2 separate regions of the Homo sapiens genome follow, and region 2 is reported to be linked to region 1. Evidence: microRNA targets listed by miRTarBase, many of them from high-throughput screens and not tested one by one. Region 1 holds a microRNA gene; the other region holds the end of a gene's coding sequence.
What was found. The annotated mature microRNA hsa-miR-4299 reads GCUGGUGACAUGAGAGGC and lies in region 1 at 2,186-2,203, opposite strand. An mRNA with a match to its seed (bases 2 to 7 or 8) in the 3' UTR can be bound and repressed. Matches are read on the target gene's strand: a 7mer-m8 pairs with bases 2 to 8, a 7mer-A1 pairs with bases 2 to 7 and ends in A, and an 8mer does both.

Region 1 (3,232 bases):
AGACTTAAGATATACTTAGGAGATAGAAATGACAGGATTTATTGATTTTTTAAAAAGATGAGGTGTAAGAATCACTTGAACCCAGGAGTTTGAGACCAGCCTAGGCAACATAGCAAGAACCCCTCTCTACAAAAAAAAAAAAAACAAACCAAAAAGACATTGAATTAGCCAGGCAAGGCGGTGTGCATCTGTAGTCCAAGCTACTTAGCAGACTGAGGTGGGTGGATCTCTTGAGCCCAGGAGGTCAAGGTTGCAGTGAATTATGATAGCACCACTGCACTCCAGCCTGGACAACAGAGAGAGATTCTGTCTCAAAAAAAAAAAAAAAAAAAAAACAACAACAAAATGAAGAAATAAAGGATAAGACTTACATTTTTGGCTTGAGCAAGTGGGTGGAGAGTCTTGCCATTTACTAAAATGAATAGGTAAACTATGAGAGGAGCTGGTTGAAGATACTACAGGGGAAAGAAAATCAAGAGTTCTGTTCTGGCATTGAAAACACATGAATATAAAGATATGAACAACAGACATTGAGGACCACAAGAAGGAGGAGGGAGTGAGGGCAGCAAGGGCAGGTAGAAAGTTGGATATGTGTATCTAAAGGTCAAAGGAGAGATTGATCTGGATATATAAATTTAGACAACATCAGCATGCAGATGATATCTTGGGCCATGAAAATAAATCATTTAGGAAGAGAGTGCAGACAGAATAAGCACTGTAAAAAAAAAAAAAAAGCAATATGTAGACATTGGTACAGGAAGAGCACCTATAAAAGAGACTGGGATGAAATTGTCAGAGATCTAGAGAAAGGAAGAAAACCAAAGGTGGACTGTCAAATAAAGGAGTGGCCACTGGGATACAACTCAAGTGAGAAACTGAGCAAAATGAGAGTATAAATTGTCCATTGGACTTGGCAACCTGGAGATTGTTGGTAACCTTGACACAAGAAGTTTGGGTGAAGTGTTAAAGTCAGAGACCCAACTCGAGAGTCTGAAAACTAATTAAAGGCTTAAACCATGGAACAAGTATGTAAACAGCTATTTTGAGATGTTAAACTGTGAAGCGATGCAGAGAAATGGGCAGTAGCTGAAGAGGGATGAAGGAATCAAAAAAGGACTTTTAGGCTTAAGGGAATGTCAATCGTGTTTGTGAACTGAAGAGACTAGCCCTAGAGAAGAGGGTAGGATTGGTAATTTAGGATGAATAGGAGATAGCCAGAGGAGTAAAACCTTGAGAAGGTAAGAAAGGACAGGATCTAGAACTCCAGGAGTATCCAGCTCCAGGAACTGGGGTGGGAACAGCATATTTTCACCTTTATACCAGAAGGACCAGAAGCAGAAGACCCAAATGAACTCAGATGTAAGCTAGGGGCATTTATGGCTGATGGTTCTAATTTTTTTAATTAAATACAATTGAAACAGGATAATTAGATCAGAGTGAAGGGTGCAGGAATGGAGTAGGGAATTTGAGAAGATAGGCAAAGGTAGGAAATAGCATCCTAAATGATGGAAAAGCAAGTTTATTAACTACAGTTTGAATACCAAGTGGTGGGTTGAGATTATGCATTTAAAAAGAAGCTTCTCAGTTTGTGTGATTTTCTCCAGCAACATACAGTTGCTCAAATTCTGGCAGGTAATGGGTTGAGTACATTCAGCTTGGAGTTTTGCCAAGTGAGTATGACAGCTATAGAGAGAGACACAGAATGACTGAACAAGTGATGAAAACTGTGGACCATATAAAGAATGCTCGACAGAAGGAACATGTTGACAAAAGGGCAGGTTCTCACTCGATTTCCAGTCTCTGGATCTGGGCTTCCCTTCCCTTCCATCTCCCCACAACCACACACACTGCATTTGGATACATGTATGCCTCTCTCTATTCTAACTGGAGGTTGGAAGAGAGATTTAATCAGCTCCCAGCCCAGCTTCTGGAGTGAAGTCTTGGTCTCCTCTGACTTACAGATGCAGATTCAGCATACAGTACTGAGCACCTCTGAACCCATCCCCGTGCCCAGATTGAAACTTCATGTGGTACCCTGGTTCAAAGAACAGGGCTATCATCACCTAGAACCCCTTTCTCAGACCTATGCTTCCATAAAGTAGAGACCCTCAAACTAGTGGCTAGAGTTCTCCTGCCTGCCACCAACCTTCTCACATCAGGGCCTCCCCACCATGGTCCTTTTTCTGCCTCTCATGTCACCAGCTCTCTCTAAAGGAGAAAACACTGTAACATGATTGGTCAGAACCCAAACAATCAATGGACCATATTTTACTAATAGGCTTGATCAGTTTTGTAGGTGGTGTTTTGTTTCCTATTTGACCATTGTTCCTTGTGGGCACCTTCCTTAGAGAATAATCTAGTGGGAAGAAGGGTTGGCATCTAGGCAGGCCTGTGTTCCTGGCCATCATGTCATTATAGCAGAACCCAAAGCTCACTTTGACTCCTCAACCACCCAACAACCTACCAGGATTCCTGGTTAAATGCACCGTAAATTCCCCATGAATTAGCCCTACCCTCTTAATGATATCCCCAAACCTTCATTTTGACACCCACTACAACATTACTTATTATAAATCGAGTTGGGTCCCCAAAAAAGATATGTTGAAGTCCTAACCCCCAATACCTCAGAATGTGACCTTATTTGGAAATTGGGTCATTGCAGATGTAATTTCTTAAAACAAGTCATACTGGAGTAGGGTAGGCCCTTAGTCCAATATGGTTGGTGTCCTTGTGAGAAGAGAAGAGCTGCAGAGACTCAGGTACACAAGGGAAGAATACCATGTGACAACCGAGGCAGAGACTGAGGTATGCAGCTCCAAGCCAAGGAATGCCAAGGATTGCTGGCAAAGCACCAGAAGCTAGGAAGAGGCAAAGAAAGATTCTCTCCTACAGGATCAGAAGGAACATGATCCTGCTATCACCTCAATTTTGGATTTCTGCCTCCAGAACTATGAGACAGTAAATATCTGTTGGTTTAAGTCACCGAGTTTGTGTTGTGTTCCAGGAAGGGTCTACATGACATGTGGCCATGACATCTATCCAGCTCAGGAAACACGGAGTGCTCCAGCCAGCCCAGGAGGAAAGCACCTGTTTCCTTACTAGCAGCGCAAGAAAGAATTCTGAAAGAGAGCAAGAACGGCTCACATTGAGCCATCTGCATAGTGACCCAGGGAAGCCAGGGCCCCTGGGTGCCATGTCTCTGCACACTAGAGCAGAGACCACACTCCTCAGG
Region 2 (3,000 bases), not on the chromosome of region 1:
ATACGAACCTAACTGTCTAGACAACTCACCATGAACCTAACAGCTCTGCTTCCAGGAAAACTCAGAGTTTTCCCACTGAACTCACCTCTGGAAAACAGAATGAATACATGTTTCTTTCTCAAAGGTCATCAGTTTATGAAAATGACCCAGGTCCTAGCTGTGGGTTAGAGGGGCCCTTTCTGGAACTCCAGAGATTGCTCTGTTCTCCTGAGGGTCTCTGCTAACTTCCCTCCTTTCTTTTTCAGAGTGAAGATCTGTCTGGCTTTATCACCAGGATGTCACATGTCAGAGAGTATCATTAAAAGAAGACGCTCAGCACTGTTTCAGCCCGAAGCTGCTTGCAGTTTTCTTTTGGATCTGAGCAATGACTGTGTTTGGAAACATCTGTGGACTCTGTTAGATGAGGCACCAACAAGGCAAGGTCACCTGCCTCTTTCCCTTGTTCCCGGATGGGGCATTCATCATTGTGCTGTTTGCGTTTTGTTTTGTTTTGTTTTAACAAAATTAGCTGAAGAAGTTATTCTCAAGAAAATTGGATGTTTTCATTGGCCTTCTTAAATTGTGGCCAGTGTCTTTTAATTTCTTCTTCTTTTCCTTTTGGCAAAGCAGATATAACCCTCAGCATGCTAGGAGAGTGCACCCGTACCTATGGAAGTGGTAAAATCTGGTATTTACTGGCTTACACTCAAAACGACCACAGTCCTACCTCAGTTCAAGGTAAAGCCGGATTTCCGTGGCGGGGGTCCCACAGGACCTCCTGTAGTAGCCCCTGCGCTGTGTGTCTGGAGCGCGGTCCTCGGCCTTATTGAAATGGTCCAAGTAGACAGCTGCTTGTTGGATTCCAGTGCAGGTACCTGCGATGTTTACGTCCACACCGAGCCCAGTGTGGGACTGACATTTCTCAATGGAAGTGAAATTTGGGATTGGACTTTGAAGACGGATTACTAAATAATAATTATTATATGTAACTGAAGCAACCTACTTTTGAAAATCAACTGTATTGGGTAGTGGGAGGTGGGAGGGAAGGGCTTTGGGAAGGGGATGAATATCTCTTTTTACCTTTAACAGACTTGTTTAATCTTCTCGATGTAGATGTTTATGTAGGTACTTCACATTGCAAACGCCTTTTATTCTATTTACAAGCTCAGATGTCTCTGCTCTCCTGAATCTTGGGCATGCCTTTCTGTAACCAAAAATCCCTGTAGGCGTGCTAGCAATTCCAGGGTGGTCCGGGTTTGGCAGATTTGATTTTTAAAAAACGTATTATCTTTAATAAAATGTTATTATGTCAACCAGTGAGGCTGCCCTGAACAAAAAAAACAAAAAGAAAAAAAAAAAAGGAAAGAAAGAAACTGATAAAAAGAGGCATTCCAGCCCCTATGTTATTGATGGAAAAAGAAAAAGAAGAAAAGCAATCTCGCAGTACATGTTACTTGTCGAAAAAATTCCGGACAAGACTACCCTTGTTTTATGTTTTCAGTATTCTGAAAATACCAGTGTGTGGCAGTTCTCGCAGATGTTACCTAAAACTGCTGAACTTGACCGGCAGAATGTTCTGCCGTTTTCTGCTCCCTCGACACTTGATTGGAGGGCTGTCGACCTCTCCTCCCGTGGGGGCTTCCCCAGTGCCTATCTTCTCTGATAGTCATGGAGAGGTTACACTAATTCATTGGAGATGTAAGTTGTTGGTTTTGTTTTGTTTTGTTTTTAGAAAAATATATATAAATATATAATAGATATCTATCGCTATAGAATAATGCATTAATAAAATGAGGCTTTTTTAGAGGAAGACCAAAAAATTCAATGTCTTAAAAATATATTTAATGGCAATGCAAAAGTCTTCCTGCTTCCGTGCTGAACTTTAGAACAGAGGATTGTATTGCAAGACAAAGTTGAATGTAAAGTGATCTCCCTGAACATTTTTAAGGTTTTACTTTTCTGAAATTATACATCACAGCAGTGCATAGGCCATATAATGTTAGCTGGAAGGTCAATTTCAGTGTATGATATACTTTATTAAGATGTATAAAAATCCTGAAGTTTTTATTTAGTTTTGGGAATAGGCATCAATGGGTGGTATTTGCTTTGTAACTCCCCCCAGGTACGATAGGGACTGAATATGGACCCTGCTGAAAGCAGTGTATTGACGCATATTTAACTCGCCCTCTATCCGTAGAGTAGTCATGACACTATACAGATGGTTCGTGTTCATACTGCAGCTTAAAACAAGCAAAATACACAGATGATAATATGCTAAATTTTCCTCTATCCTGTACATTTCACAAAAAGGCATATGCAATATTTACATTTTTAATTTAGTTTACAGAATGGAACCAAAATGTATAAATGTTATGTTTGCTAAAACTTCACAATGTATATTGGGTCTTTGTACATTTTGCCTGACTTACCTTAAATTTAAAATATTTTTTGCTATATAAACTTTAACAGTTATTAAACAGTGTTTTCTTTTTGGGTACGTATTGTTTCTGGATATCAAGATGTTAAATATATTTCTTGCTATTGTGATATGACAAGAGACTTAACTTATCTTGCTCTGTCTTCCACTGTACACGCTGTATATAGGGGTCAATGTGATGCTGCTGGAGACGAGAATAAACTGGACTAGAATAGTGCATTGTATTTAGTCTGTATTGATCATGGATGCCCTCCTTAATAGCCATATGCAATAAAATAAAGTACATTATTTATGAAATGAATACAGTCCTGAAGATTTTTTCTGTACGAATTCTCTGTTTAACATAAAGCCAATCTACTTTTAGAGTTTGGGAGTAAGTGAGGAAATACTAGGCTCCTAAAAATACTTGGATACCCCTTTTAATTTTAAAACTTTTATTCTGGAAGCCAAAAAATACCTGCCAGATAACAACATTTATGAAAAGTAAATGTGTTATATAACAAAACAGAACATTCGATGTACTCTACAAAACAGAGTCCTTATGACGTGCTGGATGCCATTCTAAATACATAACAAATATTAAC

Region 2: the mRNA of IRS2 is a reported target of hsa-miR-4299. Seed matches in the 3' UTR shown: 7mer-m8 at 268-274.

The regions. Positions count from the first base shown.
Region 1 is chr11:11,654,476-11,657,707 of GRCh38, forward strand. It overlaps MIR4299 (microRNA 4299), which reads right to left and starts at 2,247; the gene lies at 2,176-2,247.
Region 2 is chr13:109,753,554-109,756,553 of GRCh38, reverse strand. It overlaps IRS2 (insulin receptor substrate 2), which reads left to right. Exons shown (of 2, transcript NM_003749.3): 2 at 246-3,000. The coding sequence ends at 250. Among named protein-coding and RNA genes, the nearest start is that of LINC00676, 27 kb to the right of the region's middle.